Homo sapiens: one gene and its partners. The protein of the gene in region 2 interacts with the protein of the main gene of each other region in a biochemical or structural test. Each region holds a gene or a part of one and is shown on either strand. Other genes may lie near its edges. The genes, in order: PAPOLA, CPSF1 and TAF5.

Evidence for each region.
Region 1: the proteins of CPSF1 (region 2) and PAPOLA form a complex in vitro, tested with the Homo sapiens proteins (one study listed by BioGRID).
Region 3: the proteins of CPSF1 (region 2) and TAF5 form a complex in vitro, tested with the Homo sapiens proteins (one study listed by BioGRID).

What each region holds. Positions count from the first base shown.
Region 1 is NC_000014.9:96,561,351-96,565,102, reverse strand, and holds part of PAPOLA (poly(A) polymerase alpha), read right to left. Parts: intron 2,285-3,752; coding exon 2,210-2,284; intron 149-2,209; coding exon 53-148; 3' UTR 1-52. UniProt on the Homo sapiens protein: Polymerase that creates the 3'-poly(A) tail of mRNA's. Also required for the endoribonucleolytic cleavage reaction at some polyadenylation sites.
Region 2 is NC_000008.11:144,402,693-144,406,444, forward strand, and holds part of CPSF1 (cleavage and polyadenylation specificity factor subunit 1), read right to left. Parts: intron 3,142-3,752; exon of another isoform or gene 3,138-3,141; intron 2,604-3,137; exon of another isoform or gene 2,473-2,603; intron 299-2,472; exon of another isoform or gene 175-298; intron 1-174. UniProt on the Homo sapiens protein: Component of the cleavage and polyadenylation specificity factor (CPSF) complex that plays a key role in pre-mRNA 3'-end formation, recognizing the AAUAAA signal sequence and interacting with poly(A) polymerase and other factors to bring about cleavage and poly(A) addition.
Region 3 is NC_000010.11:103,384,915-103,388,666, reverse strand, and holds part of TAF5 (transcription initiation factor TFIID subunit 5), read right to left. Parts: intron 3,342-3,752; coding exon 3,177-3,341; intron 1,493-3,176; coding exon 1,315-1,492; intron 1,147-1,314; coding exon 969-1,146; intron 662-968; coding exon 444-661; 3' UTR 1-443. UniProt on the Homo sapiens protein: The TFIID basal transcription factor complex plays a major role in the initiation of RNA polymerase II (Pol II)-dependent transcription.

The DNA of each region.
Region 1 (3,752 bases), on a different chromosome or scaffold from region 2:
AAGACAACAGGTTGAGTTGGCAGATATTGTTTATGGACCCCTGAGGTTGTTTTTACCGATTCAATCTCAGTTTTATTGAATTCTTGATAACAGGAATAGGATTTGCAGGGAGAGCAGGGATATCAGAAAGGTCTGTACTGGATGTTTTCTGAGAATGAAAGCAAAGAACACAACATTGTTCAAAGCACCATAATTTAACAATGAGATGTATTTTCCATTGCTTTACTTCCTAAGAAACCTTCTAAGAAGAAAAGTATTACAAATTTAAAAACTCTATAATGTTGTCAAAATGGAATGTAAATATGCCTATCACATTATTTGTTCAACAAATAATGTGTTCAACAAAGGAATTTTCAAATAGGTATATTTTAATAATATTTTAAAAACTCCTAAGTAATTTCAAATAGTTTTTAAAATTGTTCCTCTAAGAATCACCTATCATATAATGCTTAAGTTACTGCTAAACTGTATTCACTTATTACAACACTAATAGCTGTAATATTAACTAGTATTGGAGCACCCCCAAGTGGGAGAATACTCAAAGCTCATTTTATATACAGAAGCAGCAGTAAATTTATTATTTTCTGACACTGTAAATTAAACAAATATATACAGCTAAGCAATAATTTAATCATCCTAAATTTTAGGTAGATTATTTTCATATTAATTAGATTAAATCACAAGCGTTCTTTAACACTAAAAAAATACAGAGATGGATCTTTAAAAGTTTTATTATGGAAAATTCCAAACATACACAAAGTAGAGAGCACTGTATAATGCATCCCCATGTATTCATTACCCAGCTTCATCAATTATCAAATCAAAGCCACTGTCCTCCCACTTTCAATTCACCTTGTGTTATTCTGAAGCAAATCCTAGAGATCTTATCATTTCATCTATAAATATTTCCAGATTTATCTCAAAACAATAAGAACTCTTTATTAGGTATAGCCACAATATTATCACCTCCCCAGAAATAAGTACGCCCCTAACATTACCAAAGATAGGAATGAATTTTTTTTTAAATCAACATAATCATTCTTCTTACATAACTGGGTGATTTTTCTCTCTATGGCTCTATGAATCCTTTCATTAGAAAGAAAATTCTACTCACTCATAAAAATATCTAAAAGGCAAATACCCATGGGTACTAATTACTATAGGGATAAATTCAGTAAGACAAAACTATGAAAATAAGTCCCGAGAGTATGTGGCAAACCAAAAAACATGCAATCACAATCACAGGACAGTTTAAGACTGATAAACAAGTTTGTCCACGTATCAATATTAAGCATACTTCCTGATGTTAGTTACTCCCCCTAAAGTTTTATTAGATTATGGAAAAGGTATTTCAGAAACTAAACATAATATTTATATATCTTTAGAGTCAATAAAAGTTAACATCTAGCAAAAGCACATGTTTAAATGATCACGTTAAAATAACTCGGAGCTGCACAGGAGCAGCAAAATATCATCATAGTACATAGTATCATATCAGTACAGCAGCAGTTGTTATCTCAGTTACTTTGTAGACATTAACCAGTTTTATCATCTATTAAAGAATATATCTACTTTGTGTCAGAATTTGAGCTAGATGTTAGGGTTCATTCATGTGAAAGGATTCAAGAAAAAAATTATTCAACAAAATGAAGGTTCACAAATCAATGAAAAAAGATTCCAGATGCCTACTGTATTCTGTATGTGAGGGTCTGTCACAAGTAGAATTGCTAGGACAAATGAAAACATAATTCTGAAGAGCTATGGGCTATATTAAATAACTAACTGAAATCAGTAGTGGAAAAATAAGGCAGAAATACATTTTTAAAATAAAAATATATTAGCCTTTGCAAAAGAAATCCACGAAGAATGTTTTTTAGTTCATTCCTAGTTTTAATTTCACTTTTGACCTACAAATAAAACCTACATATGAACCCTGTGTAAATGACTAGTGAGAATTTAAATGATTTGCAGTATCAAATAATATATTAATATAAGGGGATGGGTTAACATCGAAACAGTCCCAGAGAACGGTTCCGTCAAATCCAGGGCCCTGCCTTAAAACTACAATAAATACGTTTATAGGCTAGCAAGTAATTACTTTCAGAAAGATTAATTTTAATAGTCTTCTATGAACTCTCACTTTAATTCAATATACCACACTAATCTTAAGGACATTTACAAAATTCTCCTTGCTTTTTGCACTTAGTACCTGAGAGGCCAACAGAGAAGCCGCTGTCTGAATAGTTTCTGATTGAGTTGTACTTGTCTCTGTATCAAGTTGTTCCTGTGAGACAAAGAGGATGGGGAAGGGGGAAAAGAGACTTAAAAAAGAATAAAAGAACATAACTGGGTTTGGTGGCTAATAAAGAAGACAAACTGGAAGACAGGAGGGATCAAGAGAAAGATGTGACTACATTACAAAAACATCTAGTCAGTAGATGTTGTAGGTTATTTCACCATTTCAGATATTAATAAATTTCTATTTGCCTACTTAAATCTTATAAGGCATGGGTCAAACTAGCTCATGACTTTCCAACCAGCTCCAACTTGGGACATTTTAAGCAAACAATAATTAAAAACACACATAGGCACATCATGAAATGTTGCCCAGACAATAACAGAGCATAAACCCAAGGACAGTTCTTAGCTTTGTGGGAGGAAAAAAAAAAAAAAAAACTTATTCAATACTACTAAATAAAATAACCTCACACCTTTAATTAAAAGTAGAAAATATGTCTAAAAAAGATTTCTCCCTCCTTATGGTCTCTTCACCCCTCTCTAGTAATCAGTGCACTGATTCTACTCATCAGAAAACACAGGGTAAAGTATGTCATGCCATCACTCTAAACTTTTTAAAAGCAGTACACAAAAGAAAATAATATCTACACAAATAAATGAAAATAAAAATATAGGCCAGACGTGGTGGCTCACACCTGTAATCCTAGCACTTTGGGAGGCCGAGGTGGGGAGATCATGACATCAGGAGTTCAAGACCAGCCTGGCCAACATGGTGAAACCCCATCTCTACTAAAAATACAAAATTAGCCAGGCATGGTGGCGGGTGCCTGTAATCCCCACTACTCGGGAGGCTGAGGCAGAAGAATTGCTTGAACCTAGGAGGCAGAGGTTGCAGTGAGCCGAGATTGTCCCACTGCACTCCAGCCTGGGCGACAGAGCAAGACTCCATCTCAAAAAAAACCAAAAAAAGGACAAAGAAGAAAAGAAAAATATAAAAACTTCAATTTCAATGAAACTATACCAAAAAAAAAAAAAACGAAATATTGTTTTCTCCTATGAAATTAAAAAAGGTAAATAAGATGTAAGAAGTAGGAATGGAAGACATGCAGCCTTCCTGGAGGACAACTTGGTGATGTATACCAAACTTTAAGATAAAGCATACTATTTTCCTCAATAATTCTTCTTCCATTAATTTATGCTAAGTAAATAAACATGAATGAATGGCAGATATGGTATTTAGCTGTAACCAATATTACAGCAGGAAAGCACAACTTTCTTTTTTAAATGGAAATAATTGCTATGGATAGGAAATTGGTTGGATAAAAATAATCATAGCCTTAAGACAGCATTCTATGAAGCCATTAATAATTTTGTAGATTACATAATGATACACATACTTTTTTCTTGGTTTACAAAGTGAATCAAAATTATAAAGCAAGGGCATTATGAGGGCACACACAAAACCTAAGAGAGTTTTGTTAAAATATCCATCATAGAAATCTGGATAATTTGGG
Region 2 (3,752 bases):
CACAGCGACAAGGGCAACTCCAGGGCTTCACCCGCAAATTCTACCAAAGGTTTCAGAAGTAATGACACACTTAAAAAAAAAACACACACCCACTCATGTGGGGCTGACGGCACCGCAGGTGGCTCAGGCCACCCCAACAGCCCACAGACAGGTGGGACAGGAAGTGACACCAACCTCCTCAAAACGCCTGCAGATGAGCCCAGTGACAAGCAGGGGTATTGTAACACAACTGGGTTGAGTTATTCCAGGAACGCAAAACTAGATTTCCGCAAGAACAGCCATCGCTAAACTTACCATGCTGTCAAAATTAAGGAGAAAAATCATGTCATTTTAGTGGATACAAAAAAAGCATCTGATAAAGGCATTCGTGATAAAAACTCCTAGTAAAGCAAAAATAGGAGGAAAATTTTTTTTTTTTTTTTGAGATGGAGTCTCACTTTGTTGCCCAGGCTGGAGTGCAATGGTGTGATTTTGGCTCACTGCAACCTCTGCCTTCCAGGTTCAAGCGATTCTCCTGTCTCAGCCTCCTCAGTAGCTGGGATTATAGGCGCCCACCACCACGTCCAGCTAATTTTTGTATTTTTAGTACAGACAGGGTTTTGCCATGGCCAGGCTGGTCTTCAACCCCTGACCTCAAGCGATACACTCACCTCGGCCTCTCAAAGCGCTGGGATTACAGGCATGAGCCACCACGCCAGGCCTTTGTTTTTTGACATAGGGCCTCACTGTCTCCCAGGTTGGAGTGCAGAGGAGCAATCATGTTTCACTGCAGCCTCGACCTCCTGGGCTTAGGTGATCCTCCCACCTCAGCCTCCTGAGTAGCTGGGACCACATGTGAGTCACCACACCTGACTAATTTATTTATTTTTTTAAATTTTGAGACAGAGTCTCACTCTGTCACCCAGGCTGGAGGGCAGTAGTGTGATCTCAGCTCCCTGCAACCTCTGCCTCCTGGGTTCAAGCAATTCTCCTGCCTCAGCCTCCCAAGTAGCTGGGATTACAGGCATGTGCTACCATGCCCGGCTATTTTTGTATTTTTAATAGATAGGGTTTTGCCATGTTGGCCAGGATGGTCTCGAACCCCTGACCTCAGGTGATCCACCCACCTTGGCCTCCCAAAGTGCAAGGATTATAGACATGAGCCACCGCGCCCAACTTCCTTAATCAAATAAAGGGTATCTACAAAAAGTCTACAGCAATGTGGTGCTGGGAGTGAAACATTACAAGTTTTCCCTTTTGAGGCCGGGCACAGTGGCTCACGCCTGTAATCCCAGCACTTTGGGAGGCCGAGGTGGGTGGATCACCTGAGGTAAGGAGTTCGAGACCAGTCTAGCCAACATGGTGACATAGTGAAATCCCGTCTCTACTAAAAATACAAAAATTAGCTGGGTGTGGTGGCAGGTGCCTGTAGTCCCAGCTACTCAGGAGGCTAAGGCAGGAGAATCGCTTGAATCCGGGAGGCGGAGGTTGCAGTGAGCCAAGATCATGCCATTGCACTCCAGCCTGGGGGACAAGAGAGAGACTTGGTCTCAAAAAAACAAACAAAAAAAGAAGTTTTCCCTCTTGGTCAGGACCAGCCAAGGACGCCTGATCCACTCTGCCAAGTATAAGGTCAATATACAGAGATCAACTGCACTTCTGTGTACATGCAAGAAACAGGGGTAACCACTCAGAAGAATTTTTTTTTTTTTTGAGACGGAGTCTTGCTCTGTCGCCAGGCTAGAGTGCAGTGGCACAATCTTGGCTTACTGCAAGCTCTGCCTCCCAGGTTCAAGCCATTCTCCTGCCTCAGCTTACCGAGTAGCTGGGACTACAAGCGCCCACCACCACGCCTAATTTTTTTTTTTTTTGTATTTTAGTAGACTCGGGGTTTCACCATCTTGGACAGGCTGGTCTTGAACTCCTGAGCTCAGGCAATCCACCCACCTCGGCCTGCCAAAGTGCTGGGATTACAGGCGTGAGCCACTGCGCCCGGCCACCACTCAGAAGGATTTTAAGAAAAATGTGTACATAGTCAAATGGTCTAACTGGCATGTTGGGGGAAAGGGGACAGAATCAATAGCTAAAGAAATAGCGACCAAAGGCTGGGCGTGGTGGCTCACGCCTGTAATCCCAGCACTTTGGGAGGCTGAGGCAAGCGGATCACGGGGTCAGGCGATCGAGACCATCCTGGCTAACACGGTGAAACCCCGTCTCTACTAAAAATACAAAAACATTAGTCGGGCGCCTGTAGTCCCAGCTACTCAGGAGGCTGAGGCAGGGGAATCGCTTGAACCCAGGAGGTGGAGCTTGCAGTGAGCCGAGATTGTGCCACTGCACTCCAGCCTGGGTGATAGAGCGAGACTCCGTCTAAAAAAAAAAAGAGAAAGAAAGAAAGAAAAAAAAACCTTGAAAATCTGAATAAGAGGACGTTTACAGGGTTTCAAAATAAGTCCCTACAAGATACTTTTAGTTACAAAAGGAAGAAATAACCTTACAGTGGGGGAATCCAGGCCAACACTACCCAACCAAGCATCAAAGCATCAGCATCCAGTCATGAGGCAAAGGCCTCCGCCGCCTCCTGAAAGCTGATGGGGCTGCTGTTTGCCTCTTCTGTGGTGTTCCTGTCAAAAATACAAATGTCTCATCTAAACACCTGGGAATGTCTTGGCCGGGCTCCGTGGCTCACACCTGTAATCCCAGCACTTTGGAAGGCCAAGGCGGGTGGATCACTTGAGGTCAGGAGTTCGAGACCAGCCTGGCCAACATGGTGAAACCCCATCTCTACCAAAAATACAAAAAATTAGCTGGGTGTGGTGGCAGGCGCCTGTAATCCCAGCTACTCGGGAGGTTGAGGCAGGAGAACTGCTTGAACCCGGGAGGCAGAGGTTGCAGTGAGCTGAGATCGCACTGTTGCACTCTATCCTGGGTGACAGAGGGAGACTCTCTCTCAAAAAAGAAAAAAAAAAGACAGCTGTATGAAAGGTGGCTGTCTCCCTCCCTCTCCAGGTGAATCTGGGCTGGAGGCTGCCTTTAGGGCAGACTGTGGTGGCAGGGACGGTGCCCTCCTGGTCTAGCCCTTAAAGTGACTGGCAGCTTCTGCCTTAGCCTCCTAGGGCTCTGAGTTCCTGCAAGAAGCTCAACTACACCAACACCACCATGCTGCCAGGAAAACCAAGCTAGCCATGCTGGGGACAGGGGAGAGTGGAGGGACGGTGTGGGGGTAGGGGAAGACACATCTAGCCTGTCCCCAGCTCTTCAAGTCATCCCTGTCAAGGCTTGCCCTGGTGGAGGAGAGCCAAGGGCTCCCCACACTCTGATGAATCCCTGAAAACCTGGCTTCCAGGTCTGCGATTATGATAAAAGACCTCGTTTGCATATTCCAGGGCAGTTAGTTACAGAGCCACGACTAGACTGACCCCAGGAGGATGGCTTGAGCACAGGAGTTCGAGGCCAGCCTGGACAACATAGCAAGACCCCGTTTCTTAAAAACAAAAAACAAAACAGAAGAAGAAAACCTCTTTTCCTGCTATTTATGGCTCCATTTCTTGCTTCAGTTTACGCACATCTCCTCCAGAGTTGTCTGTGTTCACTGTTACTGACTCTCCTCCCCTGCTGGGCTCTTACCCCTGCTCCATTCAGACCACAACCCCTCGTGCCCACCAGACTGCCCTGTCAGTCACCAGGCATCACCTGAGGCTCAACAGCGTGGGACCCAGTGTCGAGTCCCTCCCAGCTGCCTTCCCTGGGCCTCCAGGGCCCTGTCCAGCTTT
Region 3 (3,752 bases), on a different chromosome or scaffold from region 2:
AGTTTTTGAGTGCCATACAGTAACTACGTTTTTACAGCAGAAACATACATGCTCATAGGATTCTTCAGCTAAAATTCAAGATGATAGTATATTTCTGAATTTGAATCTTGAAGCAGGATGAATTATTGAAATCAACTTTTTTTCTAAATGTAATAAATTAAAATAGCATTTGAACAGAAAATGCATAGTTTCCACACAATCCAAAGCACCATAAATGTCCCCTCCATGATCATAATACCTCTTATTCAACTAACGGAAATTAGTCAAATGTGGTTGCTATAGAAACGTGGAACTGTCCTGTTCAGATTTTTCCAAGCAGCATACTTCCAGATCCATATAGACAAAAACATTCTCTGTAGCTTAAATATTAATCACTGAGGTATTTGCTTTTAGTCTCCCTTTTTAAAAACAGTAGCTTCCAAAAGGTCTTTAATACCGATGGTTTATTGTGGACTATAAGCTCCTGCAGCTAGAACCAGGTTTCTTCGAGTAAAATGAAGGTGTACAACTGGTGTTGATTTGGTCATATATGTTCCCAACAATAACTCCTGTGAATTCTCAGGTAAATTTATATGCCCAGTGGCTGTAGTAAAGTCATCGGTCTCTAAATCTTCAAAGGCTTTGATAGCATCCCATAATCGAACTGTATTATCCATTGAACCTAAGGGGAAGTCAAAGGAAACCATTAGTTGCATCCATCATATTTACATTCGGACATTTTGTCCACTACACTATGTATTTACTGTACATTTTGGGTGAAAAATCTAAACTTGACCAATAACTCTATTCCTTCCTAAGGAGCATTATCAAGCAGTACTTTAACCTGAGAAGTGATTGATGTAGGATGACACTCTGGAATCATAGCTAAAGGGAAGTAAAACCTAAAACATAAGGACTTAGTATTGCAGTCGTCAACACTGTTTCCTCTTAACATAGCATTTATCGTAAAGCCATTAATAGTCATTTACCTGATGCCAAAATTTCACCATCTCTACTAAACCTAAGTGAACAGACTGTATCAGTGTGGCCTTTTAATTCTCCAACCATCAAACCATGTCCAATATCCCAAAGAAGCACTCTGCCATCTGTTGCTCCTGTAGCCAGGAATCTCCCATTGGGAGAAAATGTCAAGGAATGAATTGGTCCCTAGAAAAAAGTTCATAGAAAAGATCAAAGTATGTCTAGGAAAATAAGACAAAATTTTAAAGTTTTGTAGTAAGAATGGTATCTTTAAAATTTATGTGTCACTTGTTTAAAAAATATTTTTATTTTGAAAGCAACCTTGGATGCTGGAATAGTAAGAGTGTAAAATACCTTGTGTCCAGTGAAGATCCTTACACAGTTACCATTCAGGACGTCCCAGAGCCGCACAGTTCTGTCTGCAGAGCCCGTAGCAACATAATTAGAATTTGGATGGAATCTGGTACAATTCACATCAGCAAGATGGCCGGCAAATATTCTTAAAGGCTGATAGTGGTCTGTAGCCCAGAGCCTTTTATAAAGTTATTGAAAGCAAAAGATGACAATTAGTAGATAGCTGTGAAACGCCAAAAATCTATACAAAATAAATACAGAAACATCCACATAAAAAGTTAGTTCTGAGTGGGCCCCCCACTTACTAGTTAACTGAGGGGAAGAAAAATGAGACTCACAGTCCTAAGAGTTCATCTGGTACAATTTTTTTTTTTTTTTAAGCTGAGGTCTTGCCAGGCATGGGGGCTCACGCTTACACTTCTAGCACTTTGGGAGGCCGAGGCATGCAGATCACGAGGTCAGGAGTTCGAGACCAGCCTGACCAACATGGTGAAACACCGTCTTTACTAAAAATACAAAAAATTAGCTGGGCATGGTGGCGCACGCCTGTAATCCCAGCTACTCAGGAAGCTGAGGCAGGAGAATTGCTTGAACCCAGGAGGTAGAGGTTGCAGTGAGCCGAGATGGCGACACTGCACTCCAGCCTGGGTAACAGAGCGAGACTCTGTCTCAAAAAAAAAAAAAAAAATGCTGAGGTCTTGCTCTGTTGCCCAAGCTGGATTCAAACTCGGTTCCAGCAATCCTCCCACCTCAGCCTCCCCAGTAGCTGGGACTATAGGCGTGTACCACTGTAGCCAGCCAAAACTTAAGTTCTAGAACTCCAATTCTCTGTATATTCTTCCTCCTCTATTCCTAGTCTAAACCACAGAAAAGTATTTTCCCCTAGTTCTGGCCACCAAATAGTTGTTTTGTTTTGAGACAGTCTCACTCTGTCATCCAGGCTAGAATGCCGTGGTGCAATCTCGGCTCACTGCAACCTCTGCCTCCTGGGTTCAAGCAATTCTGCCTCAGCCTCCTGAGTAGCTGGGACTACAGGCACGTGCCACCACACCCGGCTAATTTTTGTTTTTTTTTTCAGTAGAGACGGGGTTTCGTCATGTTGGCCAGGCTGGTCTGGAACTTCTGGCCTCAAGTTATCTGCCCTCCTTGGCCTCCCAAAGTGCTGGGATTACAGGCGTGAGCCACTGCACCTGGCCAAATAGTTTCTAACCTGAACTACCTTATCCTCAACTTCTAAGCAGATGACAGAGAAACATAAAGGTGCTCACAGTGGTATGGAAGACAAGGTTAAGTATCTGATGGGGTTGGGAGGGAGGATTGTTAATTAACTATTTTTTAAAAACCAGGATTCATATAGATGTAATTGCAGATATAATAATACTCCTGCCCCAATTTCTTTTCTTTTTTTTTTTTTTTTTTTTTTTTTTGAGATGAAGTCTCGCTCTTGTCCCCTAGGCTGGAGTGCAATGGTGCGATCTCGGCTCACTGCAACCTCCGCCTCTCAGGTTCAAATGATTCTCCTGCCTCAGCCTCCTGAATAGCTGGGATTACAGGTGCCTACCACCACGCCCGGCTAATTTTTGTATTTTTAGTAGAGACGGGGTTCCACCATGTTGGCCAGGCTGGTCTCAAACTCTTGACCTCAGGTGATCCATCCACCTCGGCCTCCCAAAGTGCTGGGATTACAGGCATAAGCCACTGCGCCCGGCCCCAATTTCAAATAAGTTATAAATGCAAAAGCTTCTCAGAAAGTTGAACCTCAATAATGGAAGTGTAAATGAATTTGGCTGGCTGTGTAATTCCCAACAAGAAACCATTCTGTTCATTGAATAGACCCAGTCATAAGATCACAGTGTTCTTACCGAGCTACTCGGTCATGGCCCCCTGACACAAAATAATATCCATATGGAGAAAATTGTGTGTCCCATACTGGATAGTTGTGTCCTTTATATCCCACCAAACAAGTAAATGTTTGAAGGCTCCACAATCTAACAGTTCCGTCCTCTGAAGAGGAAAGCAGATAGTTCCTGAGAGAAGAGAAGGTGATATATTTGACTCCCAGAGTAACCTTTGGTCACCTGCCCAGTTTTATATACATTTGAATACATTTAATATTTTATATATATTTGACTATATTAAATATACCTAACATGCTGCATCTCACTTTTAATTCATACACGCAATTCACAGTAGGTATCAATTGAAAGAACTAACCAAACTAATGTTAACCCTGACACTCTACATATACCGAGCACCTACTGAATGAGGTAATATGATACAAAAACTTAGGGAAAATCAGAGTTCTTTACAAGAAAAAAATAGCAGGGGTAATTAACAAAGTATAGTCAAATAAGGTCAATTGAGAAAGTTTAAGAAATGTGATATGTCACTTAAAACTCAACAATTTTTGACCCTAAAATAAAGATGCTATTTTCCCA